Regions from separate parts of the Homo sapiens genome. Here region 2 is linked to region 1. Evidence: fine-mapped expression QTL. Tissue or cell type: testis. Region 1 holds a variant in brackets; the other region holds the start of a gene. All regions are shown on one strand. Distances are from middle to middle.

What was found. PIP is the estimated chance that this variant, and not a neighbour inherited with it, causes the effect.
Region 2: it holds the start of POLR3C, and the variant in region 1 is fine-mapped to the expression of POLR3C in testis (GTEx, PIP above 0.99).

What each region holds. Positions count from the first base shown.
Region 1 is chr1:146,623,067-146,631,172 of GRCh38, reverse strand. It overlaps the pseudogene HYDIN2. Among named protein-coding and RNA genes, the nearest start is that of TRN-GTT24-1, 260 kb to the right of the region's middle. The variant G/A (reference allele first, on the strand shown) is at 4,891.
Region 2 is chr1:145,820,183-145,828,288 of GRCh38, reverse strand. It overlaps POLR3C (RNA polymerase III subunit C), which reads right to left and starts at 4,089. Exons shown (of 15, transcript NM_006468.8): 1 at 3,920-4,089; 2 at 2,366-2,532; 3 at 1,580-1,835; 4 at 1,284-1,469. The coding sequence starts at 2,512. RNF115 (ring finger protein 115) reads left to right here and starts at 4,194. Exons shown (of 9, transcript NM_014455.4): 1 at 4,194-4,517. The coding sequence starts at 4,416. RefSeq lists an enhancer at 3,829-4,228.

The DNA of each region.
Region 1 (8,106 bases):
GTGCTGTGGAACGGGGGTTCTTTGTAAACCTTCCTCCTTCCACGTAGAGAAAAGGAATCCTATTCAATTTCTAATTTAAAATGGAAAATTACTCACCAAAGGAAACATCACCAAAGTGCAGAGCTGGAACATTAAAATGGAAGGTAGGTCCAATGACACAGCCTCTGGAAGGAGGAATACAAGGTGGGGGAGAGGGAGAGAATCCAGTGAATCAGAGTCACAATCAGGAAGTAGGGCAAGGATAAGTACAAAAACCATACCTTGACTTTATGTCAATTATAGTATCCAGGATTTAAAGAAATGATGACATGATGGTCTATCACAGTGGTTCTTAAAATTCTTTTTCATGATTCAAACCATGGGTTTTGACAAACAATGCTGTGGTTAACTTATTATCTTATTTCTACCAATGAATAGGTGAGAGGCAGAGCAGATGGATCACCAAACAAGGGCACAAAATGTTGTTATTTTGAATGAGACACATATCATGTAAAGTTATTAATGTGTCAAGAAATAAAAATTATAGGTCTAATCATGTAATACACATCAAAGACTATCATTGATACTAGTAATCCCTGTCCATGCTTTCATATAAACTGTTCCAATTCCACTCTTACCACTGTGACATTCCTACCACTGTGACATTCACTCACTGTGATGTTGGCCAGCCACTTTATCTCTATCAGCTTCTGTTTCTCTTCCTCGTGTATAAAAGAGAGGACTGGACTAGGTGACACTGAATGACTCTTTACTCTAAATGTTGGTCTATTTCTCTCTCAGTGTAAGGCTTTATGATCTTGGAGAGATGCTGTAGCTTAAAATAAATAATAGAGAGATTCTATGACTTCTAGCTTAGAAGGTATTGTAGGTAGAATAATGGCTCCCAGAGATATCTATGTCCTAATTCCCAGAACCTATGAATATATTAGGTTACATGGCAAAGAGGAATTAAGGTAGCAGATGGAATTAGGGTTGCTAATTAACTGAATTTAAGATGAGGAGATTATCCTGTCTTATCCTAGTAGGCCCACTGTAATCACAAGGGTGATTTTAAAAATAGAGGAAAGAGACAGAAGAGGAGGTCAGAGTGCTGCAATCTGAGAACTCAACCTGGCTTTGAACACAGAAGAAGGAAACTTTGAACACAGAAGAAGGAATCCAGGAATGTGAGCAGCCTCAGAAAGCCAAAAAAGGTTAGGAAATGGGTTCCCCTCTAGAGCCTTCAGAAGGAAACACAGCCCTGCCAACACTGATTTTAGCCTAGCTAGACCTGCATTAAGTCTATAAAACTGTAAAATATTAAGTATGTGTTGTTTGAAGCTACTAAATTTGTGATAATTTGTTACAACAGCAAAAGAAAACTATTCGGTTATCTTGTTTACCTTCAGAGCAATAATATTTTTCTCCATGATCCATGTAAAGACATGGATTGGTACCTTAGTGATACTTCCGGTTGCTTCAGCTCTGACTATAATGTGATGAGAGGTTGTTGTAAGCCTGGGAGGAATGGCCACAGCAAAGACTCACTGCAACAAGTTTCAGGTCTAACTTTCTCATGAGCATTTATTATATCTCATGCTAACGATCTGAAGTGATTTTAAAGGGAGTGGTTGGGACTCAGCCAGGAATTGGGATCCAGTTGAGAATGAAGTCAACAAACAGGCCGACAGGCTATATGCTTCACTTGAAAAAAAGCTTTTAGGGACCAAAGTAACAAATAGATCAAAAGTGTCTGACATGCGCAAGATGCTAAAGAAAGTAGGAAAGAAGTTTAAAAAATTTACACAAAGCAGACATTTAATCAATGCAGAAGTTTAAACAACCAGAGATACATGACACTTGTTCAAAGGCACATGTAACTGAGGGAATTGTGGCTGAACCATCCCATCTGGACTTAGATATGGTCACATTAATTCTCACAGGGATTCAGAATGTTAGGACAATCTATGCCAAGGCTGTGTCATAAATCAGTGCAGGGGTCTGTTAAAACTATAATTTGAAAGACAAGAGAGAGAATGATTCAATTATTACAATACGTAAGTGAGACAAGTTGAATACAAAATGTATCTGTGCTATGGTTCAAACTTTATAAAATCACATACATAAAAATAGGAGGGAAGAAAATTGCTTGTGGGTAATTTAAAAAATCACACTAATTTTAGTGTTGTTTATCCAACCACTGAAAATATTGTGTTATATAACTGGAAGAGTAAACAGAAAGAGTGAAAGTATAATATTTGTTATGATCTTTCAAGGCACATTAGCTAAAATACTAGCTTATGCAGTACTGAGAAATGAGTACCTGGCAATAAAAAAGTAAGAAACAAAATTCCAGAACCTACGATATTAACTTTATAGACATTTCCTGGGCTATGAGGCCCAAGAAAGTATTTCTGACAAAGTAAAATAACAAGTCAAGTCAGTGTTAATGTGTGGAGCTGAGAACAGATGATGTATTATACATGCATTTTTGCCCTTTATGAGTAGACATTTATTCATGACACTAGATTTTTAACAGGTTTTCAAAATTATTGTTAGTGGTTTGAAATGCTACAAACCACTAACAATTCAACACTATTGGACAAATGAAACACTGAGCTTTAAAGGAAGTGAACTGAGGAGGAAATTTATGTAAGTCTATTTCTCTTAGCAATTGATCATGAGTTTGGTGATAAATCCCCATAAAGATTCTTTCCATAGTCAGGTTTGTTGAAGGAAACTAGAAATGAACATCCAAAATCAAGAAGTGGCATGTGAATTTTGGTAAATGGAAATGTCCAGAAGATAGAACAAGAGGCTTACCCTGCACAGAGCAGGTGGAGTACTAACTAGTCCAAGTTCACTTGTGAGCAGATTCCTGGGAGATCCCTAAATCCTATTATTCCCAATGGAAAACCCAAGTACACCTTAACCTATTTAGACATTGCAAGTGACATGCATGACTACTCTGGGATCTTTAGGAGAACAGATCAGAGATTTAAAAAATTCACCCAGGAAATTACAGAAGTATTATTCACTATTACAGCCTCCTGGAATTTTTTTTTAAATGACAGCTTCATTGAGATATAATTCACACATCATACAATTCACACATTTAAAGTGTACAAATCAATGTTTTTTGTATATTCACAAATATATGCAACCATCACTACAGTCAATTTGAGAACGTTTTTATCACCTCAAAAAGAAACCTCATGCCCTTTAGCTGTCACCCACTATCCTGCACCCTCCAGCCCTAAGCAACCACTAATCTACCTCAGATCTATATAGATTTGCCTACTTTAACCATTTCATATAAATGGAATCATGTAATGTGGTCTTTCGTGACCGGGTTCTTTCATAATGTTTTCAAGGTTCATAATGGATGAACCTTATTTTCAAGGTTTATAATGGTGTCATTATGGCTGAACCTTGAAATCATTATGACAAGTGAAAGAAGCTAGTCACAAAAGACCGTGGTAGCAAGGTTCATTCATGCTACCATGTTGTAGCATCTATCAGTGCTTCATTTTTTTTCATTCCTTTTTATGGTCAAATAGTATTCCATTGTATAGATATAACACATTTCATTTATCTTTGGCTACTATGAATGATACTGTTATAAACATTCATGTACAAGTTTTTGTGTGGATATATGCTTTCATTCCTCTTGGGTATATACCTAGGAGTGGAATTGCTGGTCATATGGTAACTCAGTGTTTACATGTTTGAGGTGCTGATAAATCATTTTCTAAAGTGGCTGCCATGTCTTACATTCCTAATTACCAGTGTATGGGAGTTCTCATTCCTCCACCTTTTCACCAATACTTACAGTAGTTCCTTATCTGTAGTTTTGATTTTCTGTTGTTTCAGTTACTTATGGTCAACACGGTCCAAAAATATTAAATAAAAAATTTCCAGAAACAAATCAGTCAGAAATTGTTAAGTGCACTTTGCGTAGTGTGATGAAGTCTTGTGTCATCCACTCTCTGTCCAGCCGAGGTCATGAGTCACCCTTTTGTCCAGTGTATCGATGCTGCATATGCTACCCGCTCTTTAGTCACTTAGTAGCTGTCTTGGTTATCAGATCAACTGCCACAGTATTGCAGTGCTTGTGTCTGAGTAACCCTAATTTTACTTTTGCGCTTTGGGGCCTAAAAATGCAGATAAAGGGAAACTACTGTATTTTCCATTTTAAGATTATAGCCATCCAAGTGAGTGTGAAGTAGTATCTCATTGTGGGGTTTTGATTTACATCTCCCTGAGGATTAATGATATTGACAGTCTTTTCATGTGTTATTGGCCTCTTGTATATCTTCTTTGAGAAATGTCTGCTTAAACGCTTTGTCCATTTTTAAATTGAATTATTTATTGAGTTATAATTGTCCAATAATTTATTGTCCCTTATCAGATATATGAGTTGCACATACTTTCTCCCATTGTGAAGGTTGTCTTTTCACTTTCTTGACAGTATCCCCTTTCAAGCACAAACTTTTTTACATTCTGATGAAGTCTAATTTATTTATTTTTTCTTTGGTTGCTTGTGCTTAGATGCTGATTATCTGAAAACTATTGCTTATTTGGTTTTTGGATATGGATATTTAACCCTATTTTTTTTGTTTGTTTGTTTTTGAGACAGAGTCTCACTCTGTCACCCAGGCTGCAGTGCAGTGGCACAATCTCCGCTCACTGCAATCTCCACCTCCTGGGTTCAAGTGATTCTCCTGCCTCAGCCTCTCAAGTAGCTGGAATTACAGGCATGCATCACCATGCCCAGTTAATTTTTTTGTATTTTTAGTAGAGACAGGGTTTCACCATGTTGGCCAGGCTGGTCTCGAACTCCTGGCCTCAGGTAATCTGCCTGCCTCAGCCTCCCAAAGTGCTGAGATTACAGGCATGAGCCACCACACC[G/A]GGCCTATCCATATGTTGTCTTCTAACAGTTTTATAGTTTCAGCCCTTACATTTCAGTCTTTGATCCATGTAGAGGCAGTTCCCTTCTACTCCTAGTTTGTTACTTTTTTTTTTTAATCATAAAAGGGTGCTAAATTTTGGCAAATGCTTTTTCTGTGTTTACTGAAATAATCATGTGGTTTTTGTCCTTTATTCTATTAATATGTTGTATTACATTGATTGATTTTCTTATGTTAAGCCAACCTTTCATCATTCAGGATAAATCCCACTTCGTCATGGGGTATAATCCTTTCCACATGTTGCTGGATTTGGTTTGCTAGTATTTTGTCAAAGATTTTTGGGTCTAAATCCATAAAGGTTATGGGTTTTTAGCTTTCTTTTCTTGTAATGTTTTCATTTGGTTTTGGTATCAGGGTAATACTGGCCTCATAAAATGAGTTGAAAAGTGTTCCCACCTTCTTATTTTTTGGAAGAGTTTGTGAAAGATTTATGACAATTCTTCATTAAACATTCAGTAGAATTTACCAGTGAAGCCACTTGATCTTGTTTTTTGTTTGTTTGTTTTTTGGTTGGAATATATTACAGGTCTATTCAGATTTTCTATTTCTTCTTGAGTCAGTTTTGGTAGTTCGTGTCTTTCTAGGAATTTGTTCATATCATCTACATTATCTAATTTTTGGCATACAATTGTTCATAGCATTATCCACTAATCCTTTTAATTTCTGTAAGGTTGGTAGTAATGTCCTTTCTTTTATTCCTGTTGGGTAGAGTGTGCTGTAGATGTCTGTTAGGTCTAGGTGGTTTATAGTGTTCAACTCTTCTATTTCCTTTGTGATCTTCTGCTTAGTTTTTTATTATTGAAAGTGGGGTATTGACATCCCTTACTATTTTGCTGAATTGTCTATTTCTCCCTTCAATTCTATCTTTCTGCACTTCACAGATTTTGGTGCTCTGTTATTAGATGTGTGTTTATAATTGCCATATCTTTTTGATGAACTCACTATCTTATCATTGTAAAATGCCCTTCTTTGTCTTGAGTAACAATTTTTATTTTAAAGTCTATTTTGTCTGATATAACATAGACTCTCCAGCTTTCTTTTGGTACTGCTTGCATGGTGTATATATTTCCATCCTTTTGGTTTCAACCTATTCATATCTTTAAATCTAAAGTGTGGTATCTTGTAAAAAGCATATAGATACAAGATAGATATCTTGTAAAAAGCAAAAAGATATAGATTTTTGGCGGGGTTGTTTGTTTTGTTCTAATCCATTCTGCCATTCTCTAACTTTTAATTGAAGTATTTAATACATTGACATTTAATGTAATTGTTGATAGGGCAGGACTCATGCTACTTATTTTCTATATGTCTCATATCTTTTCTGTTCCTCTATTCCTCCATTACTGCCTTTCTTTGTGTTAAATGGATATTTTCTACCCTTTTGAATTCCTTTGTTATTTCTTTTACTGTATTTTTAAGTTTCTTTAGGGAATAGTTTAAAGAATGGGCAATCCTGAATTTGGGTAAATAATTCAGAGTCAAAAATGAGGGCAGTAGTATTCATGCATCAGGAATGTCTAACAAACCCAAATACATGAGTTCTTGCACCTAATATACAACCTTGCTTGAAGGAGGTACTCAATAAGAGTTTATTTAACAAATATCCAAAATACATATTTATTCCTAAAAGGGGTAGCTATGTATGTTGATGGTAAGACACAGTATTATTAGGCCTGAACTTAAAATGGGGAATGGCCAGGTGAAATTGGGATGGGCTTTCTTATTAAACTTGAGGGGCAGTTAGCCTTCCTTGGCTAGCACTTTCCCTTTCTTTCATCTACCTGAAAAGTAAAACTGCTCCTTTAATATCCTATACTTTCCTTCCTACAGATAGGGCCATTATTCCTTCTATCTTAAATGTTTTTAGAGCAGAGCTTAAAGGTTTTATCTTTGCTGCTTATGTATGAAGGCTTGCTTATGATACTGGATGTTGTCAAGGGTGCTTATGACTCAGAGCAATACTTCCTGATGCCCAGTAGTCAGCTTCCAAGAGTTGATCTGCTGGATCATATCAAAGGCCCTCATGGGACTAGAGGATCCGTGAATTGGAGACAAGGTTATATTCACAAGTTTGTTCTTCCTACTTCTTCAGAGAACCACCCTTCACTGCTTGTCATGAGAGATGAGATGTTATGAAGGTAGGAAGTGGGCTGAAGTTCATATAAATGAAAGTGTATTCCCACCCTTCTCATGTTGTATACATACCCAAAGGATGTTAACCATGGGCTGGGATAAGCACGGCACATATTCGTGAAGAGTCAATGTTATTCAAATATTTGGAAAACAACCCTCATTTTTCTCTTATAACAAACACACATGTATTATGGAAGAGAACGTAAATGTCTTGTGAATGTTTCAGATAAGTCTTGAGACTTAAAAATAAAAAAGATTATGATTGTGACAGGTTGCTTTGGTCATGCCACAGAACCCTTGAGGCACACACGTTCACTCTCCTTAGTTGTTGGGGGTTGTATGACTTTGCTAGGGCTGCCATAACAAAGTACCCTAGACTGGGTGGCTTAAACAACATAAGTTTATTTCTGTTGCTGTCAGACGGGTTGGTGATTGCAGGGTTATTTTTTTCTGAGGGTCTCTCGCTTCAGCTTCTCTTTATTTTTTCACATGGCCCTTTTCTATGTGTATGTCTGTGTCCTAATGTCCTCTCCTTATAAGGACACCAATCATATTGGATTAAAGCCCACCCATCTGACCTCATTTTGCCTTAATTACCTCTTTAAAGGCCCTATGTCCAAGAAGAGTTACATTCCGAGGTACTGGGTGTTAGGACTTCAACATATAAATTCTGCGGGAAACAATTCAGTGCATAACAGGGACACTGAGGTGGAAGAGTTGAGAATAAATAGTAATCACCTTTCAGCTAATCTTGAGATTCTGAATGTATAGTATATATCATGAGATCAGTACATTTTCCTTGGATCCTTCAGGTCATATGTCTCTATCTCTTTTCTATGTTATCCCCAGGGCTTGCCCCAAGGGAGACCTCAGCTTGTAGATGGAGGGAGGTCTTGCTAGCAGTTACCAGAATAAGAGAAACTGCCATGGTAATTAACAACCTGCTGCTGTGGGAATCCAAACAGAGTCAGAGCAATGTGTTTACAATGCTTGGAGACATAATAGTGAGATCATGTAAGTAATT
Region 2 (8,106 bases), 800 kb after region 1:
AGATGCTCTATAAGGTCTTACTTGATTCAGCCCCTGCCTGTCTCCCATCCAAGTACTAAGCAGGTTGATCCTGATTAGCTTCTGAGATCAGACCCCTGCCTAGCTATGTCTCTAACCTTACCTCATGCCTCTCTTGCTTTGCTTACAATGCTTTAGCTATACTGACATTCTTTCATTTCCTCAAATGCTATTTTTTTACTACATACTATTCCCTCTGCCAAAAATGCTTTTCCTGTTACCTCACTGTTAGCTTCTACTTCAAATCTTAGCTCAAATGCCACCTTCTCAAAGAAACATGAGGCCTAAACTCCCAGATGAATCCCGTCTCTCGTTATATATTTTCTTTTCTTTTTTTTTTCCCGAGACAGAGTCTCACTCTGTCACCCAGGCTGGAGTACAGTGGTGCAATCTTGGCTCACTGCAATCGCTGTCTCCTGGGTTCAAGCAATTCTCCTGCCCCAGCCTCCCGAGTAGCTGGGATTACAGGCGTATGCCACCATACCTGGCTATTTTTTTTTTTTTTTTTTTTTGAGACGGAGTCTGGCTCTGTTGCCCAGGCTGGAGTGCAGTGGCACGATCTCGGCTCACTGCAACCTCCGCTTCCCGGGTTCATGCTATTTTCCTGCCTCAGCCTCCCAAGTAGCTGGGACTACAGATGCCCGCCACCACACCCAGCTAATTTTTTGTATTTTTAGTATAGACGGGGTTTCCCGGTATTAGCCAGGATGGTCTCGATCTCCTGACCTCGTGATCCGCCCACCTTGGCCTCCCAAAGTGCTGGGATTACAGGCGTGAACCACCATGCCCGGCTACCTGGCTAATTTTTATAATTTTAGTAGAGATGGGGTTTCAACATGTTGCCCAGGCTGGTCTCGAACTCCTGGCCTCATGCAATTCGCCTGCCTCAGTCTCCCAAAGTCTCCATTATATATTTTCATAACACCTCATACTTTTCCTTCATGGCACTTATTACAGTTTAATTATATACTGATGTGATTTTCTGATTAATGCATGTCTCATAATACTATGACAGTTCCTTCATAGGAATATTTCCTTCATAGTACTTATCACCGTTTAATGATATATCGATGTGATTTTCCGATTAATGTATGTCTCCTATACTAAAGCCCCATGGCAGAGACCATGATTTTTTCATTGTTATACACCACGATGTCTGGCACATAGCAAATACTTGGTAAATACAATCACATTTCATACACTTGACAATCAAGAAGAATCCACAATTAAGGCAAGTCACAGTTCCAGGGGTTAAAATTCCTTACCTATCAAGCTGAGTTTAGGAACCAGGTACATGTCCTTTTCATTAATGACAAGTGTGGGGGCAGGTGGTGGTGGCCCAGGGTCTGAATTCTCAGTGGTAGGTACCGAAGGGCAGCGTTGTACAAAGTGTGTGTCTGCCAGTCGCACAAATGTGTTTGATACTTCAGCATAGTCCATGGTCTTGCCATCTGTATAACAGGAGGAAAAAGGCAGATGAGATGGCCTAAGATAGCTCAGGGTTCACTCCCATAGCCAGCTGATCTATGCTTTTGTTAACAGCTATGGATACCATACTGACCCTCCATGGTCTCTGTGAGCCGGTCTGCCACTTTCTTCACAACAGCTGACATTGTCAGTTTGCCGTTCAACAGAAGCTCCTCAACAATCAGCTCTCCAGTGTCACTGTACAGAGTTTTGGTAGTATAGATGTACCGGGGATATCTAAGCATTCGCAATACCCGGCTGCACTGGGCTTCATACTCCACCACACCACGTTTGTGCACTTGATAACTCACCAGGTTATGTTGGACGAGGACACACAGGGCTTTCTTCACCTAAATGGAACATAAAGAGAAGAAAGAGAGGAAAGACCTGAAGATATAGCTCATTACTGCTGGCAATTTTTTGTCCAACAGCTTAGTAAGCATCAGAAAATGGCTAGATAATTTCTGCACTTATTTCCTCTCTCCACTGGAGGAGCTAATAAGAATCACACATCAATACAATAAATCAGGAAGATTCCTTGCTATATTTCCTCTGATCCTTATCTCTCAAAACACAATTTACTTTCATCATTCTCATTCCTTAAAGGCAGTACTGAGATTAATAGACTTATTGTGAATAAATGAGGTACGGCATGGGAAGAGCAAAGATTTGCCTAAAAGCTGTGATGAACTAGGAACACTTTGAGAAACAAAATGTTGATGTCTAAGTCTCATCCTTTTCTCCCCGAAATAACATTGTTCTGCTCCAAGGGCAGGCTTTCTTCATTTTTCCTTTTCTGGGGTGAGAAGAACAATATTCAAAGGTGGGTGAAATAAATTAGTGAAAGAAATGAGAGAAAATGAATGTCATTTAGACATACCTGATCCAGTGATGTTCCTGTGTCATGGGCAATTACTCTTAGTGGCTGGCTGCCGGTTCTTATCAGATGGACTCCAATTTTTTCTACAATCTCTCCAAAATGCTCTTGCAGCAACAAAGAACAGAGCTTAATTTCTGCTTGAGTCATTGTACTGGGGAGTCTGAGAGCTAGGGAAAAAACACCAAAATGGTACAATAGAAAGTCTTTCACGCTGGAAGCAGAGCTGCTGAGTGTAAATTCATGTATTCTTTCTGGAGGGCAATTTGACAATACATATCAAAAAGCCTTAAAAATCTTGCATATCTTTGAAACAACAATTTCTTTTTGGATATTGTGTCCAAAGAAAGAAAAAGCTAATAATAATGAAGTCATTAGTTCTCTTTATAATACCGACTTAGTGGAAACAATCTAACGTCTAACAATAAATGATGCCATACCCATACAATGGCATACTACACCAACATTTAAAGTTATTTAGTACGATGCGTATTCATGTAGAAAATTATTCATAATAGGCTGGCGCGGTGGCTCAGGCCTGTAATCCTAGCACTTTGGGAGACCGAGGTGGGCGTATCATGAGGTCAGGAGTTTGAGACCAGCCTGGCCAATATAGTGAAACCCCTTCTCTACTAAAAACACACAAAAAAATTAGCTGGGCGTGGTGGCGGGTGCCTGTAATCCCAGCTACTAGGGAGGCTGAGACAGGAGAATCGCTTGAAGCCGGGAGGCAGAGGTTGCAGTGAGCCGAGATCGCGCCACTGCACTCCAACCCGGGCGACAGTGCGAGATTCTGTCTCCAAAACAAAAAAAAACAAAAAAAATTACTCATAATATATTAAGTGACAGAAGCAAGCTGAAAAAATATAAAAATTCAATTATTGTAAAAAAAAAGGAAAAATGTATGCATAGGAAAAGACTATGCATCAAATTTATCTCTATGGGATTATGCGTGATTCTGATTTTCCTTAAAGATTGGGAGATGATTTTGCGGTCTGTCACAGACCTTAGTTTCTACACTTCACTGCTTGGAAGAATTAAGGTCACTGTTCACAGCTCGGTGGGAGTGAACAGGCAGTGTTATTCTCAGTCCATAAAGGAAATGATAATTTCGAAAAAGAAATTTAGGAGGTAAAGGACTGCTTCTCAACAGGGTGTGTCAAACAGGAGATGAGGTTACGTTGTTTGCAGGACAGTATTCAATTCTTAAACTTCTACTCCTTGACAAAGTTGACACAATCAGAAACGGACGTAGTTAATTTTATGATTACTTCCTTATTACAAATTGCTACCAAACATTGTTTACTTATTTCTTCCAATTCCTAAGAAGCCAAGTCTTTGCCTCCCCGTCCCCACCCCGCCTCAGTATCACCAGAGACCTATTTCGTCCATCCACATATCTTTGGAGAAGCATTCCCAGATCCTTTGCCATCCTCGGAAAGGGCTTCCAAGGCGCTTGGCTCCTAGCTCTACACTTCCTTTACACAGGTTCCCGTTTCGGACGTGGTCTCTTGGTCCAGTCAGTGCCGCCACGTTCAGACAGCATTTTCCACTAACCTCAGGGTCAGCGCAATCCGGGGGCTCCAACTCCAATTCGGCTGAGCTTCCCGCGACGGCTTCCTACGGCTCCCGCTGGCCTTCTAGGCCGAGGTGGAGCCCACCGCCCTTTCTAGGACGCGGATCGCCACCGAAGAAGACGCGGAAAAGCAAAAAGCGCGTGCCACTCTACCCCAGAGTTTCGGCGGCTTCCGGGGACGCTCTTTCTTTCTTCTCGCTGGAAGACTGGAGGACCAGCGAGGGGCTGTTTGTGGAGCCGGCGGGCGGGCCGTTTGTCTCTCCTTCCTGCGCCTCTTTGGTGCTGGGAGGCGGGCCGCAGGGTAGCTGTTGGCGCCGCCGCGTTTCTGGGCCTGGCCAACTCACGTGACCGACGCGGGCTCTGAAGCGGTGGGCCGCACCGAGGCGGCGGCGGCGGCGACGACTGCAGCTCGGGAGGTAGCGGCCTGGCGAGGGACGGGCCGGCTGCCCTCTCGGACGGCCGCGGCGGAGGGCAAAAATGGCGGAGGCTTCGGCGGCCGGGGCGGACTCGGGCGCCGCTGTAGCCGCCCACCGGTTTTTCTGCCACTTTTGCAAGGGCGAGGTCAGCCCCAAACTACCGGTAAGAGCGCTGTGTTCTCTATACTTGGGAACCTCATAGATTCCTGGCCCCGATTTCCCGGAACTGGGTCTGGAGCTTTCTGCACATCATTGACTCGCCCGACATCGGTCTGCCGAATACCTGCTGCCCACTTCTAAGCCGCCGGCCCTAAACCCTGGGCATCACGGCCTCGGCCCCGTACCTCCTGCCCACCTCTTAATTCATCCTGGGCTGCTCCACCTGACCTCACCTCTTTACCTCCCGTGTCCTTAATTTTTTTTTTTCTTAGCAAGTTTCCCTCTGATAACTCTCCCCTCAATTTTCTTGCATTCTTTTATACCTGGTCTTTTTCCTACGATGACCTCCCCCCACACTTCTTCCACTGTGTCTTCTCACCTTCCTCTGTGTTCTTTTCCACTTTTCACCCCCCACCGCCCCCGCCACCTCCCTTGTCAGTGAAGCGAAATAGCGGATTGCTGAGGATTGTCACTCTTCGGTTTTTTCTAGGGAAGGAAGCACAGAAAGGGGGTTGGAAGGTATCTGTGGGGCGAAAAGGGGGATTTTGCTCTTCAGTGGTTTCCAGGGTCCTTGTGACAGTGAAGACAGCAGCGTACTAATGACTTGCAGACGGTCTGCACTCCTATCACTGTTGAAGGAAATGGCTTTAGGAAGAAGGCAGGACGTACTGTTTCAACTTCGTTTATTTTGGTTGTCATGCTGCCAGTGTCTTTAATATCATTGTTCCGCCCCCCGCCCTGTCCCTTTCTTCACCTAAGAAAAAGAGCCGGGACAGAATGTTGGGGATGCTTCCTCTGACGTGAAATTGGTTTTCACGAGTTTCTGCCAGAGTGTTAGCCCCTTGAGAGGCAGTGCTGTGGTTGGGAAGAAAACACTTTTGTAGGTCAGGCGCGGTGGCTTAGGTCTGTAATCCCAGTGCTTTGGGAGGACGAGGCAGGAGGATTGCTTGAGGCCAGGAGTTTGAGACCAGCCTGGGCAACAGAGTGAGACCCCTCTCTACAAAAACAAACAACATTTATGCAGCATACTAGCCAGCACCAGCATCACAAACCCAGAAACTGTTTTGGGTTGGGTTGTAGCTACTACGAGGAGCTCCCCCAGAGTGAATGTCAATCCTGTCCTTGGCCAACTGTCTTTATGGTTGTTCCTTTCCTTACAAGTGTCCAGGTTCAGTCTTGTGATAGAGTGGCAACATAATGTATGTTTCTATTTATGGTGTCTCAGATACAGTGTAGGAGAAAACCTTCTGAAGTGAGTCTGTATATCTTATTTCTTAGAAACACAAATGGAGTCCAGTGAATAAGTGCTTAAAGGGTGTTTTATAGTCTTCTCTCACTCAAAAGTTTTGTTTAAGGCATTATGATACATTCTTTCCTCTCTACTTGCCGCACCCCCTACTTCAGAGTCATAGTTTCATCTAAATGCTACTTAGCTGTTTTTCTTTTTTCTTTTTTTTTTTTTGAGACAGCCTCTGTCTATCACCCAGGAGCATGATTTCGGCTGACTGCAACCTCCACCTGCCGGGTTCAAGAGAGTCTCCTGCCTCGGCCTCCGGGTAGCTGGGACTATAGGTGCACGACCACCGCACCCTGGCTAATTTTTGTGTTTTTAGTAGAGATGCAGTTTCACCATGTTGGCCAGGCTGGTCTCGAACTCTTGACCTCAAGTGATCCACCCGACTCGGGCTCCCAGAGTGCTGGGATTACAGGCGTGAGCCACTGCTCCCCGCCTAAATGCTACTTAGCTTTGTTTGCTGATTTTGCTGTGTGTTTATGTTTTTTTTTTTGGCCATATTTCAGTGCTGGGAAGAGCAGGTGTCTAGTTTTTTTCCAGCCAACATCAGAGCCTGCAGAACTCTTCTACCATAGAGAGGGAGTCTGGAATTCAGCCAGTATGTGTGTGACCAGTGGTGTGTTGTTGAATGTGATGCCTTGTTGAATATTCCATCCTTAGCTTTTTTGATCTTTAAGTTGCTGTTCACTATTTTGCCTTTAAGAGTGAGAAGTTGGCCAGGCGTGGTGGCTCAGGCCTGTAATCCCAATACTTTGGGAGTCCAAGGCAGGCAGATCGCTTGAGCTCAGGAGTTCGAGACTAGCCTGGGCAACATGGAGAAACCCCGTCTCTACCAAAAAATAAAAAAATTTGCCGTGTGTGTGGTGGCATGCACCTGTAGTCCCAGCTATTCAGGAGGCTGAGGTAGGAGGATTGCCTGACCCCAGGAAGCAGAGGTTGCAGTGAGCTGAGATCGCACCATTGCACTCCAGCCTGGGCAATAGAGCCAGACCCTGTCTCAAAAAAAAAAAAAAAAAAAAAAAAAGAGTGAGAAGACAGTCTAAACTTCCCCAATTGATTATATCTTTTCTTCTCACCTTTAAGTCCTTACTTCAAAGGGATAATTTGAAAAGCTGAATAGGTGTTTTTCTAAGCCTTAGTTAATGCCTGGAGAAGTTTCTTGATCTTTTTGGTGTGATATATTATTTGTCATATCTGATTTGTAAATTGAGGCCTAACACAATTGAGTATAACCGGATTCTTCCTAAATATATCCAAGGTTCTCTGCTGAGTGTCCTGGAGGTGATAGGGAGTGATATGTGGCTCCTGCCCTTAAGGATCTTACAGCTTTTGGGGAAAGACAAGGCAAACATAGAAAAAGTAACAGCATAAAGGGAATGAGGATATGTGCTTTAGGATTCAGAGAGGGGAATTTCATAGCATTGGTGTGGCCAGTGGGATTTAAATTGAGTTTTGAGGGATGGGTACATTTCAGATTGAGAATTCCAAAGACTGTGAGGTAGCAAAAGGAAGAGGGAGTTGATGAAGAAGGGAGAAATATTTAATAAATCATGTTTTTTTCACAACTAAAAGTTGTATACTATATTTTTTATAGTGTTCAGCATGATTTGATATATGTATACACTGAATGGTTAAATCAAGCTATTTAACATGCATTACCTCACATACTTATTTTTGCGTGGTGAGAACACTTAAAATCTGTCTTAGCAATTTTCAAATATACAGTATATTCCCTTTTTCTTTTTTTGAGACTGAGTCTCGCTCTGTCACCAGGCTGGAGTGCAGTGGTGCGATCTCGGTTCACTACAACCTCCACCTCCTGGGTTCAAGCAGTTCTCCTGCCTCGGCCTCCCAAGTAGTGGGGACTACAGGCACGTGCCACCATGCCCAGCTAATTTTTGTATTTTTAGTAGAGACGGGGTTTCACCATGTTGGCCAGGATGGTCTCCATCTCGACCTTGTGATATGCCCACCTTGGCCTCCCAAAGTGGTGGGATTACAGGTGTGAGCCACTGCACCCGGCCTCTTTTTTTCTTTTTAAATAGAGACAGAATTTATTCTGTCTTGTTGCCCAGGCTGTTCTTGAATTTGTGGGCTCAATGTGTCCTCCCACTATATCCTCCTGAGTAGTAGTAGATAGGTGTGTTCCACCATGCCTGGCTAATTTTTTTTTCTTTTTTGTAGAGATGGGATTTTGCCATGTTGCCCCGGCTGGTCTCAAATTTCTGGGCTTAAGCAATCTGCCTGCCTCAGCCTCCCAAAGTGCTGGGGTTACAGGCATGAGCTATTGCGGCTGGCC